Linked DNA regions of Homo sapiens: all the other regions are linked to region 2. A link means that fine-mapping ties the variant in region 2 to the plasma level of a protein whose gene starts in the linked region. Region 2 holds a variant in brackets. A gene starts in each other region. All regions are shown on their forward strands.

Region 1 (4,546 bases), not on the chromosome of region 2:
CTGGATGATCTGTACCCACCTCTCCTTCCCACCCGAATAGGTTTCTGCAGTTCTCATCCTCAATGGTGACATAGCTCCTGGATCTCATGGGTCTTAAATGGGGCTTCCTCACATACCTGTGACCCTGCAACCCTAGCCCAAGCTCTGCCCTCAGGACTGAAGAAAATCTGGGTGGGCCCTCATGTGATGCAACACAAACCAACTGACCCTTGCTGAGAGCCTTGCTGGGATCCTGAGACTCAGTTTGAGGACAAGGCTTCTGTCACCCATATGATGTGCTTGACTTCTGGCTGCAGGACTTGGGGTTGGTTTCTCTGGGCCTGGAGACTTGTCTTAGGAACCTGGCCAGTCCTTTCAGACCGACTGGAATGGGGCCTTGCCTTGTTCTTGAGAGATTCACCATTCCTACTCCCCATCCTATGCCACACCAGGAACTGGGGTTGCTGTGGCACATGTCCTGCCCTCCTGGTGCCTATTAGGCTGCCTTTGACCACCTTCTCTGAAGCTAAATGCTCACCTGAGCCGCAAGCCACATCATCTCTGGATGCTACGCGCCACCTGCCTGCCTGAACATCATCCTCCACAGCACCTGCCCCATGGCAGCAGGTCAGGGGCCCAGGTCCCTGCCTCCCTGACGCTCCTCCCAGGGAGTCTCATCTTGTCACAATTTGCCTTTTAGTGAGTTAGAACCTGAATTTAGTAACTCAAAGTGTCAAGGAATGAGGAGGGCAAAGGATGACAAGGATTAACAATATATTTATAATATAAAACAATAACCACAGGCTTGAGATGAGAAGGATTCTAATGACAACATAGTCTACCCTCTTATTTAGAGGGAAAAAAAACAAGGGAAGGGGCCAGGGGTGGTGGCTTATACCTGCAATCCCAGCACTTTGGGAGGCCAAGGCGGGCAGATCACTTGAGGTCAGGAGTTCAAGACCAGCCTGGCCAACATGATAAAACCCCGTCTCTACTAAAAATACAAAAATTAGCTGGGCATGGTGGTGGGCACCTGTAGTCCCAGTTACTTGGGAGGCTGAGACACAAGAATCACTTGAACCCGAGAGGCCAAGGTTGCAGTGAGCCGATAGTGCCACTGCACTCCAGCTTGAGCAACAGAGTGAGACCCTGTCTCAAACAAAACAAAAAACAAGGGAAGGGAAAATGCTCTACTTAATTTTATTATTTGGGGGTTGGGCATAAAATATGAGAAAAGGAAGACCTAAAGGTGAAAAAATGGCCAGTATCCATAAAAGAAAAGGAGTGGCTGTCTGTGCTTCAGGTAGCTGACCATTTTTTATTTTTAGAACATCCTATCTTTCTTAAAAAAAAAAACCCAAGTTTTTAATATTTTAAAATTTTCTTTTAACAAATGCTTATATACTAGAAAAGTTATGGGCTGTGGGAATGAAACCTGCAAAAACAGTGTCTTTAATACTGAAAATAGGGTCAAGAATATTGGCTTAAAATATTAATGACATTTTTCCATTTTTAAAACGAAAGGAGTTGAAGTTGTTCAGGCACTGAATGTACCTACTTGTAGGTGAGACATACTAGATGGCCTGTGAAGACTTATAAAATTAATTAAGGTATGAATTCCATAATTCTTAAGCCATCAAGCCCGCTATTACAGGAATAAAACACTGGAAGCTACAAAAATTAATTCTGGTTTTATACACTCAGATTCAACATTGTTTAAAATATTTCTAATTAAAAAATAAGTTAGCATCAAGTATGTTGAAAATGCTGGAAGAAGAGGCCAAGTCCCTGGAGTGGGAAGGACATGCCTTCCTGTGGGGAAGCGCAGTAGTGTGGAAGGGGGAAAGGGATGGTTTTCAGCTGATTTATCTCAGACTTCCCACCCAGTTTGGTTTCCGCTCCCTGCAGAGCTGTCAAGAGGATATCTCCTTGGAATGCCTCCTCCCCAGGGGCCCCCACTCCTCAAGAACCCATGAGCCCTGGCAATAGGCGGGGGTGGGGAGGGTAGGTCTAAGGGGTGGTAGCTGGCCTAGGATAACTCACCTGGGGGCAGTATGTTCAGAGAGACTCTGTGCAAAATCTGGGGCCCCCTGGCCCCATCCACCATGCAGCCATACTCGCCAGCATCCTCTTCCTGCAGGGTAACCATTTCCACCTGCAGCAGGCCCCCACCCAGGTCTGTGAGAAACGTACGCCTGCCCGCTGGAGCTCTGCGATCCACAGCTGAGGACACCAGGGGCTGGCACCCCTCCGGCAAGAACCGGCACCACACCTTCTGAGCTTTGACATCCTGGAGCCTGTAGTGGCACTGCACCAGAATGGAGCTTCCCACGGGTGCCTGCAGCACCTCAGGGAGGCTGCCAACTATGCCCTGACCTGGGGAAGGAAAGGAGGTGGGAATTTTGGGCAGGAGCTGGGAGCATCTCCCAGCCCAGCTGCTGGTATGGGTGTGGCATTCACAATAACACGTTACTCCTGGACATGGGGCTGAGCATATGGGGCCCAGAGCTGCAGCTCCTCCTGAACCTTACCTTCTAGTCCCAGGAGCAGCAGCAAGAGCAGGGTGAGGCCCATGGCTGGGCAGAGAAATGTCAACTCCTGGGCTTGCCTGGGCACTGATGCAGCATTCGCCTGAGGGCAGGAAACATCTGCCTCAGAAAGTCACTTGGGGTGGGAGAAAGGAAATGATGGGCACCTCCAGGGGTGGGGAAAGGGAGTTCTTCCAAGCCCTGGTTGGCTCAGTGCTCAGGAACTGCCCTGAGGGTAAGGGTGGGCAAGACAGGATGAGAAGACCCGAAGAAAGCTAGAAGCCTGCAGGGGCTGGGGCCCGGCTAAGGGGTGAGATGGGAGGATTGTGACAATTGGAGGACAGGAGAGGAAGAGGAAAGATGATCTTCAGGATCTTCCTAATACAGAATCTGAGGGTGCACAGCTATGAAGGAGGAAGGTAGAGTGCCCTGCACCTCACTCAATGCCATTCTTGCTCTCAATTCTTTGGGAGTGCCCCACGACCACCCAAGCTTTTAGGAGGTTGTATGCAGTACAACCTCAAACAGGAAGTTTCACCTTGATCCTGTGCCCTGGACTGGGTCTTTCTTCATTTATTGTCCTGGACACTATAGAACCCTTCCATCTGGATCCACATTCTTCAGTTCTGGGAAACAAATTCTTACTTTGATAATTACATGTCCATTTTCTTCTCCCCTTCCATTTTTCTGCAATTCCTTAACTAGTTGGTTATTGAATGTCGTGTGTTCATCTCATTTTCATATCTTTTCTATCTCATTTTCCATCTTTTTGTCTCTTTTGTTCTGCCTTCAAGGAGATTTCCTCATTTTCTTCCATCCTTCTATTTTTGTCTTTTAAAATGTTATTTTTTAATATTTTTAATTTACAAGACAAGATATTCCTTATTCTTTGAGCATTTTTAAATTCTGGCATACTATTTTTGTTTCATGAATGCTCTATCTTCTCTGTTGGAAGACAATTCTTCACAAATATTTTCACATTGCTGCATGTTCTAGTCCTTCTGTGCAAAGGGTATTGGCCAAGTTTTGCTGAAGGGTGATTGAATAGCAAACATACCTTGAGTGCAACGTCCAGAGATTTGCTCGCATTCTTCCTCTTCTTCACCGGAGATTTACATTCCAGAGTAAACGTTTCTCTCTCTCTCTCTCTCTCTCTCTCTCTCTTCCAGAGAGGAAGATATACCAGATTCTCTATATAAACTCCAAGTCTCCTAATTTGGGGGTTTCTCTCCTGTGATCCAAACTCACTGCCTGCACAGGAGGCACCTGGCTCTCATTCATGTTGCCCTGTGGAATTGGGCTCGAGGAACTGGGACAAAGTGTGAGTAATAAACCTAATAAACTATCTGACCTCAGACACAGGGGAAGCACCAGTGGTCAGAGAGACTACAGCAGCTGGGGATGGGTGGGAGGGGCGTATTGCCCTAATCTGGAGGGTAAGACCTAGAAAAGGGCCTGGAAAGGCCATTCTCCCTCACTCCCATCTCCTCCCGTCTCACCTTTTTTCCTCTTTTTCCTTCCTTCCTTTGGGAACAAGGGAGTGAGGAATGGGAAACTGGGAGCAGGAGCATGAGAAAATCAGTTAATGTGTTAAGCTGGGCCTTGTGGAAGTGGGAGATTGGGTGACCAACTTCCCGTTTTTGCTTGGGATTGAGGGGTTTCTTGGGACTTTCTGTGCAAAAACTGAAAAAGTCCTGAACAAACCAGGACGGGTCACCCTAGTTGGTGATGTGCTTATGTCTGTCTTGCCAATGCATATCAGGCTTTCTTTGATTTCCTTATAAGAAAGTTATTTTCATACTAACAAGCCACCCAGGCGTGTTGTGTGAAGAGGTGAACTGTATTCAACACTGGACTAAGTGTTGAATATGGTCCACTGCTGGGTGCTGAGACAGAGGTGACCAGGCAAGATCCTGGCCTTCATGGAGACATCATGTTGCTGGGCGTTAGATGAAGGAAACCAGTGTTTATTGAGGACCTACTATGTGCCAGTCACCTGGCCAAGGACCTTCACAATGTTATTTCTTTCTTTTTTTTTT
Region 2 (4,546 bases):
TCCTAGATATTGATGATAGCAAATATCTGCAGAGCATAGTAAAAAACTTTGACTCGAATTTCAGGCCTTTTGTGCATGTCAAGTTCAAATTTATATAGTGATGAGTTCAAGACCAAGTTTAGAATCCATATAATTACAATCTAACCTTTCAGGGCCCAGGATTCTAACACCTTTCATTCACAGATGAGAAAATGTGACTTGGGTGTGGTGGGTCATACCTGTAATCCCAGTGACACAGGAGGCTGAGGCAGGAGGATTGCTTGAGCCCAGGAGTTTGAGACCAGCCTAGGCAATATAGTGAGACCCCATATTTACAAAAAAGTAAAAATAAAACTTAGCTGAGAATGGTGGCACATCATGTCTGTAATTTCAGTGATGGGAGTCTGAGGTGGGAGGATCACTTGAACCTAAGAGGTTGAGGCTACAGTGAGCAAGATTGCACCACTGCACTCTAGCCTGAGTGACAGAGTGAACCCTATCTGAAAAAAAAATGGGGCCTTTGATCTCAAAGGTTAATTGAGGCAGCTGAGTATTGAGAAGTCATTTGAGTGACAGTGTTTGGAAAATATCTGACAGTGTATGACAGATTCATGGATAATCTATTAGACAATTATTCTCCATTCAGAACTGAAGTTGTAAGGGTAAAAACAGCTGATAACCAAGATAAGGGAGGATATTATAATCAAACAACGTTTTGACATTTGGTGTCACTTGGTCTGGGAACAAGGATAAAGAATAATACCTGGATGATAAATAAGATAGCTTCCTCATCTAGTCAATAATCTGCACTGTAGTGTTCTTTACATGAGAGATTTAATGAGGCTTAAATGAAATGGTTAATGTGTTAGCTCTCTGACTGCTAATCAGATATATTATTGGGTACTTACTACTAAACACAATGATGACTGCAAAGCCATAATCATTTCTCTCCAGGGGCTTCTAATTTGTTGGCTAATGATAACTATAATCTGTAAGGGAGGCGTAGAAGTAGTGGTGGTACAAGAATAGGTATAAACTGCACAATGAGGGAACATAAGCCCTAAGTTATGCTTTGGACATAAAAGCTCAATGTGGTCAAAAGACCAAGAGTCTGATGGAGTCGGCTTCTAATTGCCGTAGAATCCTGAGCAAAGCATTTAGCTTTGTGTGTGACTTGAGGTGGCTCTATTAATTTCCATTTGTTTTGAATTAGTTACTTTATGCATGTGTGTGTCAGTCTGATTTTCATAATCACAATTCATCCAAAGATTTTCTCAAAAGTCAGACTTATCTAGAAAATCTATACCAAAGAAGTCACAAAGAATGGCTCGACGTTGGAGAGAATGCTGAGATCTAAGGGAAAAGATACAACAGATCACAAGAAATTATTATGAACAATTATACGCTAGCAATTTGGAAAAACCTAGATGAAATGGATAAATTACTGAACATGTGCAATCTACCAAGATTGAATTATTAAGAAATCGAAAATCTGAACACATCTATCTCTCAATTGCCTGTACTGGTACCTAGAAATGTGTTTTATTGCATTCCGTATTGAAACAATTCATTCAGTCAATTTCATGGAAAGCCTTCAATGTAACAGGCCCTAAGATGAACAAGGGTAAACTGGCTAACGCTGAGTCATGACCTGCAAATAACTGCCAGACCTCCAAGGGAATTTATATTGTAATGGGCCAAAGCTTCTATTTAGCATTAAGGCAATGGAATAGAGTTTTTATTTGAGGTATCATCAAGAAAAGTAGATGTGACAGTTTTGGATTCAGTGTTGTATATGATCTCTTTGATCCTGCAGATGTTTTAATACTACAATTAGCACACAGTAGCTAAATAAATCCAATCAGTTCTGTGTTGTGAATTAGCATGCATGTAATACAAACATAAAATTTAGCGACTGTTTTTTCCTAGTGACTTCGGACCTTGGTCATTGCAATTCTTATCTAATCTCTGATTTAGCCTCCAAATTCCAATATTCAAATATCCGTTTATATCATGTCTGTCCTTTATGTTAAGGTTTTTAGACTGAATATCTAAAAGTGATTTACTGCCCAAATGGCAAAATGTGGATAAACATTGAAGCTGAGGTATGATCACCTGGGCTCTATGTTATACCATTATCTCTACTCTCTAAGATGTCCACAACATAAAGTTAAAAGACAAAAAATAATAATAAAAGATATTTTTAGATATTGTCCTTATGAACAAAATGAGTATAAAGTTGACTTGTAACTGTACAGGAAGAAAAGTTTACAGAAAGACTGAGTAGGCCTAACTGTATCTGCTGTCAATCAAAAAACACAAGTATCACAAATATTTTCTGCTTTATGAATTTTGCTTGCATTTAATCCTTTACATGAAAGACAATCAGTCTCCTATGTTTCTAAGTTTCCTGGAAGGGGTAATGTCATATAAACCTTAATCAAGAGTTAGACCTTGAAATCTTAGCTGCTTAAATCACCCATTTCTATAT[C/T]GTGTTCATTGTTATTAACTTAAAATTCAAATCCCACAGTTCTGTGTTTCATTTTTAGCACATCACTTCTGGTAGGGACCAGATGTTTCCTTTAGACTAGGTTATGGCTTCTTATTTGCTTCTCTTTTTTATCTTAAAATTTATACCTACTAATAGCTTCCATGAGGTCATTTGCAGGACATTACAGTATAGAGTCCTTGAGCTGGCAGCTTGGAATAATGTTTTAGGGACAAGGAAGGAAGCTCTAAGGGAAAAGTGTGGAAAGGGAAAGAGAAGGAGACAGACACAGTATATGGAGATACCAGATGAAGCTAAGAAAAAAATAGACAGCACACTCCAACTTGCTTAACTGTGATCTCCATGCAAAAAAAAAAAAAAAAAAAGTCTTACGGGGAAACATTCCAATTTGCATTGTAAGTGTATCTTAGTATTCAGGTAAACTTTTAATAATTGTCTTTAAAATACAGCTGAGTATTTCCATGGCTTAATATTCTCCTTATAATATTAAATTTGTCTATTATGTATCATTTAAGGGGAAAAGCAAAAACACAGACAATGTTATTCTCTGTACTTCTTTTGATGTAAACAAAACAAAATATATAACTTCTAGATAAAAAGCGAACTAAAAATATTAGTGAAAGTCCCCAACCCTAATTTTAGGAGCTTCCAAAATTGCTTACAAGTGTGCTCTGTAATGCAAAAGATGTTCAAGTTTATGGATCAATTAGGACATTAAGATAATAAACCAGAATTAAACCAAGTATTAGCATATACTTTACATACTAATTTTGGTCAGAAACATTCCATCAAAGATTAAAATTTGGTATTACATCTACAAACAGTAAGGCAAGGGTTAATGTCACTATCCTGAGCTCACTTCTTTCAGGAATCTATGACTACAGTCCCTAATTTTGATAATATATCAAACAAGTATGAACAGAAAATGTATAAGTTTTCTTTATCATCGAAGAGACTATAGCAATGAGTTATTAAATGGCTATTTGAAATGTATCTCACACACAAATATAAAGATATCTTGTTATATAATATTAGGTCTTAGGTTTTATGCTAAAAATGTTTCAATTTTGATAGAGATGAAATCTCTTCTCCTATACCCTCGTATTTATGACTGATTTCTGGCTATATGTTGTGTCACCTCCTGAACCATGGACATGACCACTGATTATAATCTGAATTTGGTAATAAGATACATGAACTTGACATGCCCACCACCCCGTATCTTCCTCTAATTGTAAATTGTTCTAAAGGATATACAATATTTGCTAAAATAAAAGTATTTCTTAGAGGTACCTAGATCATACCCCCAAAATAGTATGGCAAAACATATTCAATTTATACACTTAGAGTTCCAAAGTAAAGTATACAAATCTGGCAATTTGATGCCAATTTGTGAATAAGGAAATGGGAGATCGTGGAAAATAAGGAATTGCAAAGTTTAAAATAATAATAATAACAGAAACATCAAGGCAAAAGATACCACAGGTATCTTGAATATCATTCTAAGGTTCTTTTTTTACAAATCTGAGACACTTAGGTTTTCAAGGACAGTTGAAAATAATGAAGCAAAGAGCAATTATAAGCCAAGATATGCCAAACATGAAGAGAATAAACCTTTGCACTAACCTTCCATACCCTTTCAGTGTCTCCTCAATTCCTACTGAATGGATACCTTGCCCAAGCATTTAACATTTTCTGTGATATTTCCTCAGTTTTCTTTTTCTTTTTTCCCAAATTTGAAAATTATTTCCTACTTCTTGAGTTGGCAGAGCTTCAGGCAAACTTAATGCCTCTCTGCTTCATGTACATATCCCATATGTTTAAGGGCCTCCAAGTCTTTTTTTAAACTGTTTGCTCTGCCTAGAAGCTCATTTCTTTCCCTTTCCACATGTTCATATCCTATGAATTTTTTCAAAGTTTTACATAATATCCTATTATCTCTGCATTTCCTCATCTCCTTCTGAGATGTCAAAGCAAATTATTTATGCATATCTTACAGTTTAATAATTAGCTACTTTCTATTATAACTATCATCTATCTACTATTGTACTACAGTTT
Region 3 (4,546 bases), not on the chromosome of region 2:
AACAAGTGGCAGAGCCAGGTTACCTCATTATTCAAACTCCAGAGGATGTTCTTTTAACCAGATCATATCTATCTTTTAAAAAATTGTTTAGTTCATGCATGGAAAACACTTAGTATTCCTGGCATATTAAAATGATTAATAAATTGGAACTGTTATCATACTACATTAAGAATGACACCGATCATCAATTTAGTAACTTTTGTTGTTCAAACTGTGAAATACCAAGTATACAAAAAAGAGAGGAAAATTAAAGCTTTTTTTCCCCAACAATCCTGTTAAAATTAATAATAGATGACAACAAGTCAATAGCAAATTTTTATTTCATGTGAATATTTTTGTAAGAATAGTGTGGGTATAAGTTTTAGGGTTTAAAAAATGAATGAAAGTTCTGTTGATGAAAAAAGTAGAATTTAGAATTAGGAGTCTAGTAAGGTTGAAGTCCTATATTGTACTTATTTATAAGGCTCATTCTAATGATAGAATTATAACTATGTAGATATGTTAATTCATTTTCATCATCTATTTTTGTTCTACTAGTGGCAAATATATTCACTTTAAACCAGCTAACCACAGTTTATAAGATTCATATTCACCAATTTATTATTTTAGTGTTTGATGGCTAAAATAAACATCAGAATAAACTTTCAGGGAGTATTTTAAATAAGACATCCTAGGACTAAGACACTGAGAGACTCCATTAAGTTCCTAAATATATTAACAAAAATGTATTGAGCAAATATTCTCTGTTGGGCTCCATGTAATTCCTATTATCATTGACCATTATGAAATCTAATAATACCCATGAGTATGTCTAATAACCATAAAGTAGACCAGGAAAAATCAACCAAGTTGTGTTAGAATAGAAATTTTTAAAGAAAAAAATGCAAAGTACAGTCCAATGTTTAGGCAAGAATTAGAGGGTTGAAACCAGGCTTATTTATTTTCATCTTCTTTCTGCCATCTTTTAACCAACCTTCTCAGAATAAAATGTGATTTTTGAGACAGAATGAAACACATATCCAAATTTTAATACAGTAAGAATAGGTATCCTGAATAAATGAGAACTCTAGAAAATCAAGGTTTCAAAATTCTACCCTTCCTGGGAGTTAAAGAAGTTTGGCAGAAACAGAACAAATTAATCAGCAGATTCATCACCTGCCAATTTTTTCTGTACAATTTTCTTGATTCTGGGAGCATCTGGGTCCAGGCAGATTTTCCTCCCATCCTTCAGTGTGGCTCTGCAAAAGAGAACAGGGTTATCTGTGGGTGTCCTGATCTGAATATCAGAACTAATCCATGAGACTGGAGGAAACGAGTGCATATGTGGATGGAGGTAGAGGGTTTCTCTGATAAGGCAATAGCACAGAAACAGCAACTTACATCACTTCGACTTGGTTGCAATGGGTTCCTTTCCCGATCACTTCCAAACTTTGGATGTTTTTGGGATGAATTCCAGAGGTTGTCTTTATACACATGCAGCGGAGTTCAGCATACAAGTCACTGTCTAGACTTTCCTCTAGGGTAGAAAATGTGACCTATTGGTGGTCATGAATATTTTCCTCAGGTCTCTTATTTGCAGATTGAGGGCAATTGTACCTCTCTCATAAAGCCATTGTGAATATGATCTGTAACGCTTTAGTAAAGTGCCCAGAAGATTGCCCAGCACACAAGAAGTGAGAAGTGACCCCCCTGTGTGTCTCCTCCAATTGGAGTTATTGGTATAATGGCCCTCTCCAGCCCCAAAGGCACCAAGCTAGTCTTTACCCCAGAGACAGGTGTAGCAGAAGCAGCAACAAGTGCAGAGAAGCAGGGCCTCTACCTTTGCCTTTCGCCAAGTTTCTCTTAGTTTGTCCTTTGGTGGAGGAAGCCAGAGCAGTCAGCAGCAATGACAGAAGCAGCAGCACCTGCAAGGCATGAAGTGGTCTCGCACTGTTACAGGAAGGGGTGGTATCAAGTCTGAGGCTCATGGTGGAGAAGGCTGAGCTAGAGTTGTTTCCAGAACCAGAAGACCTCTGAGTGAGGGTGAGTTGCTGCCTACAAGTCTGCAGATAAGTGGCTTCTCATGCCCTGAAGATGTCATTTATATGCTCTTTCTCAAAGCCAGTAAGAAGGAAGAGGTAGGAAAGGAGGAAGTGAGGGTATGTGGTGATACACACATAAGCATTTGAAGCTGTGCCCAACCCAGAGAAAGACCAGACAGGTCAAATTCCTACTAACTTGCTTAATGTGCATCACTTCACATTCCCACTCTCCCTTTCTCAATACTTATCTTCCTTACACCTGTGTAAGAACTCCGTTCAGGAAGGTAAGAACTAGACTGAAATACTACATGCATTTTCTTTGTATGATTTATAACAATACGCCCTGCCTTTTCTATACTGCAGTTTTTAGGCTTAATAGAAACTTTAGGAGCACCTGAAGGCACAAACATGTGGCCCTTGAAAGAGAAAGTTATCTTTGCTTGCCAAAGAAAGCAAATGTTCTTTTCATGAATGTTGATAAATATTGGGATTGGTTTGGAGCATGTAAGTAAAATAAGAGCCAATTACCGTCAAAGGTTGTCTTTGGATTTTAGCTTATTGGATTCTTTCTGCCTTCAATCTATATTATCTTTTGTAATTTCATCTAGAAACTACAAATGAAACTCATCCTCCTTTATATTACAAAAGAAGCTACTTGTTTCTACCACCTAAGAATACCTAAAAAGTAGGACCCAGCATATTTATTTTTCTTTTTATTTTTAATTTAACAGAAAAATTATATAATTTATTGCAAAAGATTCGTATGCTGCAGATGTCTTTGAAATAAAACACAAATTTCTCTTCATCATTTCTCCACATTCCTACTATTCAGTGGTAAACACTGGTAACAATTTTGCATTAGTTTTCAATTCTGTCTGCACTTATATGCACACATGTATATGTATACAATGAGACACGTTTAAGACATAGAGGTACACATATACATAGAAGTATTGTATATGGATCACTATACAGCTGACTTTTATCCTTCAAAAAATATGTGTTCCTTATCTTTTCAGGTCATCTTAATGTAGTTTTCCCCCATTCTTCTTAATGACCATGTGACGTCCTGTGATAAGAACAATAGTTACTCAACCTTGCCTTGTTGGTGCCCTTCACGGTGTTTCCAATTTTGCACTATTAGAAATTGTGCAAGAAATGTCCTTACCAAGGAAAATATTTGTTCCTGAATTCTCAGACCCAAATTAAAGGTTTTGGTCTGAAATGCTATATCCCTACAAAGATAGAGAGGTGGACCTACACATTACATGTTGGCTTTATGTTATTTTCTGGTTCTCTGTCCCATCTGTAAGACTTCCTTCCTCAATTGAACCATGCACTTTTGTAGGGAGTGGCATGTCCTGTGTTTGTTTGAATGTCTCATGTATCCTATAACATGTAGGATACTTCAATATAAAGTAGGTCTTAAATAATTAATAAATCAATGAATACGTATCACATGAAAGCTTCCCTATCCTTTCTAATCACCTACAATTCCAGGCCAAACTCGACAGGACCCAAAGCAACTATGCTATTTAAATTTATTTGGAAGATTGTCAATAAAGAAGAGGCAGATGTAAGTGGCACTGGCAACAAGTTTTCTTCCTTTTACAACTATGTATAAGTCTCACAGAATATTATTTAAATTTTCCATATTCTTTTCTTACTTTTCATATCCTTAAATTTTAGAAGAAATGCTTAAAATACTAAATGTTCAAAATTACTCTCTATCAAAAAGATGAATATAGTAATTTTTTAAATCATGTTTTTGTTTTCAAGCCAATTTTCCCTATTGTTTAATAGTTATCTACTATGTCTACTCAAGTTCTCAGGTCCTGTTTTTAAATGCGATAACCTACAGACCACATTTGACAGTTTACTTTAGAAGTAAGCAGACTTCCAAATTAACTCGCCCTGGAAAGGTTTCGTGACTTGATGGTGACATTCTATCTCTGAGTAAAGTATTTTATTACGAGTTCCTCAAATGATTGATGTACTAATTACTGTAGAACCTACTGACACTAAATAGGACAATGATTTATTTCTAAGTTTAGCTGAAACAAAAAGTTTTATTGATTGTTTTGTATGTAGACATTTAGCCTGTATGCTGTAATCTGTAGCTAATGATTTTAACTTCGGTATTGTACCCTCCAATGAAAAAGAAGACAACTCTGGTATGAGGAGTTTTTCTGCCTTATTTTAAGCTTTTCTATTATATAAAGCCCTTGTAACTTGTGAAAGACTCTAGAACACCCCCAACTTTGTGGATGTGTCTTCCCAGGTCTGTCTTCCCAGTTGGCTTTCAATAAACATGTATAAAATTATTTCTGCCTCACTAGCCTTAGTTTCAGTTGATGAATGTATTTCTTATTTTTCTCCACCTCATTTATTGTTTTCTTTAAATTAGAGTTTAGCAGTAGAGCATATTTAATTGGAATGATTTTTCTCCCTGTCACAACATAGAAATTTCTAGTCTTAAGCAAGCTTAAAGGAAGGGTGTAAGCTGAGAGTTCGGAGTCTTCTGA
Region 4 (4,546 bases), not on the chromosome of region 2:
TCACCTTGTAGGTAATTGCGCTGCATGACAGCTAGGTTTAAAAAGTAAATAATAATAATTTGTAATTAGAACCATAGAAATGATGCAAAGGTCTGTCATTGAATTTTCATTTCCTTAACTTTGCCAATATATGAGGAGTTTACTAGATACACATGATTAAATGAATGTTGAAAAGTGTGGAGGGGCTATAAAGAACAAATTAAGAAATACACAGAACTGACGCCTGAGGGTTAATAAGTGAACTGTTTGAAGGAGACAATCACAAATAAAAAATCCCAACATCGATAACATCCCCAGAGCCTGTATTCATTTGCTTGAATACAAGCTTCTCAGCTGAGTTATAGAGGTGAATGACCTCTTATTTTCTGTTCTTTCTGTGATGCCAAACTATTCATTCATTTAAAAATACATACTGATTTCTTGTTATGCTTAAAGTACTTGTGATATTCAGGTAAATAATAAAGAAATACAAGAGGATAAATGTTAGATTCTAACATCTTTTAAAAAAATCAACAAATACACAAACAAGCAACAACTACACAGACTTCAATGTGCTATTGGAGGGCCATGAGAATTACAGAAAGAAGAAATGCACAGTAACTTAGTAAACAAAATGAGAAACAGAAAATTTTAGGTAGAGAGAATAGAATGAGAAAAATTTCAGACAAGGGAACATGGAATTTATATATGAAATTGAAAAACTCCAGTTTGGCTGGTTCTTAGGAATGCAAGATAGGAAAAGGGATGAAAAAGTTTTTAAAAATAGTTTGGATCCACACTGAGGAGGGTCTTAAAGGCCAGTAGTACATTCTTAAAAATAACTTTTCATTAGTTAAAATCTTAAAATCTTATTTTAATCACAAGGAAACAGTCAGTGTTCTCCTTTATTGAGATTCTCTTGGCAACTATCTGTAGGACAACTGTAGAAGTGATAAACAGACAAATAGCGACCATTGAGAAGCTTAGTGGGATATGCCATGACCCTTCAGTATTACCTTCCTCCAGTCAAATTTCTGGCAGAGTCAACACTTACACCAAATCCCCAGAGCCACCAGCCCGACAACCATCCCCACGCACAGGATCAGCAGAATCAAAGCCATCACACGCCACCAGGAGGAGGATGCAGAGCCAACTGTAGGCATATAATAAAGACATCAAGGAGCAGGCAGTATGGGTTAGCTATGGGGAAGGCTCACCCCTGCCCCTGCCCCTGCCTTCTCAGGGTCCTCCAAGTAATAGAAAGAGCTTTGCTGGCAGATCTCACCTGTGTTCTCCTCATGATCATCAACAATAGGCATGGCCCACCCCTATACCATACATCCATTCTCATCTCCAATGCACTTTACCTCTCCAAGCTGAAATATTACTTGCTGTTAAGGCCTGATGTGTTTGTATTTTTTGTTTTGTTTTGTTTTGTTTTGTTTTGTTTTATGCTCACCCATGCCATAAATAATTGCTTTAATAAACAGCAAATGAAGAATCACACTCATTTGCTCACATATAGAAAATGAAATTTCCACTCTTTTCCGTTATCCCCTTGACTTCTATGCCCTCGAGTATTAAACGCTCAGAATCTTAATGCAATTTTCCCTGCACATATATTGGATGTTTGTAATCTAAATAGGTCTGTATGAGCTTATGAAAACACTACTCAAATGCTTTAGAGCATTAACATCATTCAAGAAAAAGAAATTAAACTATATATATTATCAATAGTAGAAAAAGAAAGAATTGAATCAACTCATTTTTTAAATTAATTTCCAAATTATTGGCTCTGAGCATTCTTACCGGAGATGAGAGCTGGTTTCCGAGTTTTAATATTTAAGGTGATGTATCCATCTTCATCCTGCATGGCTTCCCGAGTACTGCAACTGAGCTCAGAGTTCAATGACTTTGCAAAATGTAGTTTCCAACTTTACAATTTCAGTATCTGTCAGTTTATGATCTTCCTGTCTTTAGTAGGGTAGAACCATGTGAGATGGGACACATTTGTTTTCCTTTGCTTATTGTTTTCCAGGAAGCTTCTTCATAGCTGCTCAGAGATACATGGACCTTGAACACAAAAACACAAAAATAATAATAACTTGTGGTAAAGGAGTAGATAAGGTATTTGCTTCCTGCTTTTTTTTTATCTTCAACACTAAATAAAGGGACATTCCATCATGTGCATCCTTTCTAAGAACAAAAGTTCATGCTTTATCTTAGCCCTAGCTTAGTCTAAATTACATTGCTCAAATGAGAGATTTCTGCTGAAAATTCATGGATATAGCTCACCAGCAGATATATAGTTTATCTCATTGTGAGAAGCAAGTGTAATATAATTGGATCTGATAGGGGCTAAATTAGCTGTTTCATAGTCTTGTGTTGGAAGAGATCATTCCTGATTATGACCTAGAATTTACACAACTTCTTGCATATTTCATACTTTTTTTTATTTGAAGGATCCACATGAGGCAGGCCTGATATTGCTTAGATTTAGGTATTGAAGGAAAACTATCAAATCAAGTAAAATAATACAGAGTTGGTGACTTGCTGCATTGTTCTTTAGTAGTGTTTGTGCTTTAAAGTGAGTTTCCTGGAATGGAAGAATTTTGATTTGATGAAATCACTTCATTTCAAGTACAGCTGTGCTTAGATGAATATTTGAGACTGAATGGTTCCTAGCACCTTTTCATCACAATATAATATGTATTGCACACACTTAACTTTATGAAATGGGCTTTTACATTATTTTAGCTTGCACTGAAAGTAGTTGTAAGAACAGCCATACAAAGCTAGCTGATGCATTTATTATAGGAATATTGGGGAGGATGTTGTCTATTTTGCCATAGGGTAACTCTTACATAGTTTTATGGCAGATTTTTATTTTTGTTAAATCACCATGACTAGCAAAGCTTTAAGTAGTAGGCATTTACCTTATAAATAATTTGAATTCTATTTTTCTTTACTTAGCAGAGTGTTAGACTTTTCAATATAGTGATTATGTGGGCTGCAGTAGCAGATATTTTGTTTATTAACATGCCCTTTGGCATAGCCCGTAGATTTTTTCTCCCCTGCTATCTCCTTCACTCTGAATTTCTTGTCAATTCACTTAAAATTATCTTTCATTCTAAATTTCTTTCTCTATACTCTTCAAATTATTTTGAGAATGAGGTGAAGAATAAGCATAACACGTATAAAAGACATTCCCTGATTTTGGAAAGCCAAACTTAGTATGATTCAAATATTTTTACCAAAACTAATTCTTAATTAAAAAAAAACACATTTGAAATAAATGCCAAATTTTAAGAAAAGACTAAAAATTTTTAAAAAACATTAAATCCCAACACCATTTTTGTTGCTGTGTTTCTTATCTCAGTTAAAATATTCAGGGGTTCCCAATCATAAGCTGGGTAAATTCAGTCACTTACCATTCATCTACCACTGCTTCTGTTCTCATAACTTCTGTTTCAGCTAAAAGGGATTCTTCGCTCTCCCATCATTTATCCTCAGGCTTTTCTGGAAGATTGGGGTTGGAATGGGGTTTGATCCTCCCTCTCTTCCTTCCTTTCTACATCTACTCATCAGCAAGTCCTGAGGCTATTCTGTCACAGTAACCCCTGTCTTTCACGTTCTTTTGGTCACTGCTTTCCTTCAGTGTTTTGTTACCTAAAATATACAGAAACACTAAAAAATAATCGAATAAATAACTGTGACAAAGTAACAGAGAGAAAAGAAAATGTGTGGAGGTTATAGTACAAATGACACTTTTCCAATAAAGCTTTACTCTGTTCTCTTAGGTACCAAACAGGTACATATGAAAACTTAATTTGTTACATTAAATCAGATATGTAAAGGTAAGATCCAAGGACATTGAGACAATTTTTAAATTATTGTAAACATTTTTTGTTTATTAACAAAAACTTTAAGATGGTATTAAAGAGAACAATTAGATTGCTTTGTTGAGGTTTCCACATTCTCTAGGACTTGAGCAGCTGATTTCATTATAAAACATGTCCCATGTATTTTTGTAAACCACCAGGAATGTGCCAGGATTAGTTCTTGATCCTTTAATGCTTAGAACTGCATATTTAATGCCTGAAGTAGGTTAACACTCCGCCTTTGAAGATATTCCTTTCCTATATCTCAGGCTCTGGACTTTCCATTGCTTCATTCCTCTTTCTCATTGTAATTTAACCTTGCTTTTTGGATCTTTGATCATTCCAGCCACAGTCTGAGAGTCTTATATCTTATCTGTGTTCCACAAAATATACGTTTGCCTTTCTGTGTATCCCCCCTCACATGACTTTGTGGTGTTAGAAGCAAGCTGAGCGAAGACAGAGACTCTCAGGGCCAAAGGAACTAGCCCTTGATAACATTGAGTTCTAATTTTGCTCCCTCCCCACATTCTATAAATGTAAGTTGAGTTACTCAGCAAAAATTAAGCAGAGAACTGCAGGAAAGAGAGATAGATATCACAAATGCTTCTTTTCCTTTTCCCAAATCCAGAGTCTTTGCTAGTTACCTTTTAATCACCCTCCAAGTCCCGTTATTAGCTTATTTTATT

Which allele goes with the higher level. Alleles are on the strand shown, and positions count from the first base shown. The strength of an association depends on the size of the effect and on how common the allele is.
With allele T in place of C in region 2, the plasma level of the protein whose gene starts at base 2,612 in region 1 is higher (weak association).
For the plasma level of the protein whose gene starts at base 2,054 in region 3, T is the high allele of the variant in region 2 and C is the other (weak association).
For the plasma level of the protein whose gene starts at base 1,873 in region 4, allele T in region 2 goes with a higher level than allele C (weak association).

What was found. A credible set is the group of variants that fine-mapping cannot tell apart. PIP is the posterior inclusion probability: the model's chance that the variant is causal. The UK Biobank Pharma Proteomics Project read protein levels with antibody pairs (Olink). The fine-mapping took linkage between variants from a reference panel, not from the people measured, so its PIPs are less certain.
Region 1: TREML1 starts here. The variant in region 2 is the best candidate, but not a certain one, in a credible set for the plasma level of the TREML1 protein (UK Biobank, PIP 0.61).
Region 3: PPBP starts here. The variant in region 2 is the best candidate, but not a certain one, in a credible set for the plasma level of the PPBP protein (UK Biobank, PIP 0.80).
Region 4: it holds the start of CLEC1B, and the variant in region 2 is the best candidate, but not a certain one, in a credible set for the plasma level of the CLEC1B protein (UK Biobank, PIP 0.53).

What each region holds. Positions count from the first base shown.
Region 1 is chr6:41,151,736-41,156,281 of GRCh38, forward strand. It overlaps TREML1 (triggering receptor expressed on myeloid cells like 1), which reads right to left and starts at 2,612. Exons shown (of 6, transcript NM_178174.4): 1 at 2,511-2,612; 2 at 2,023-2,355. The coding sequence starts at 2,553.
Region 2 is chr7:80,587,175-80,591,720 of GRCh38, forward strand. No RefSeq gene overlaps it. Among named protein-coding and RNA genes, the nearest start is that of CD36, 49 kb to the right of the region's middle. The variant C/T (reference allele first, on the strand shown) is at 2,471.
Region 3 is chr4:73,986,137-73,990,682 of GRCh38, forward strand. It overlaps PPBP (pro-platelet basic protein), which reads right to left and starts at 2,054. Exons shown (of 3, transcript NM_002704.3): 1 at 1,820-2,054; 2 at 1,381-1,516; 3 at 303-1,238. The coding sequence starts at 1,967. The coding sequence ends at 1,136.
Region 4 is chr12:9,997,249-10,001,794 of GRCh38, forward strand. CLEC1B (C-type lectin domain family 1 member B) reads right to left here and starts at 1,873. Exons shown (of 6, transcript NM_016509.4): 1 at 1,789-1,873; 2 at 1,034-1,132; 3 at 1-31. The coding sequence starts at 1,852. It also overlaps a transcript of CLEC12A not described here.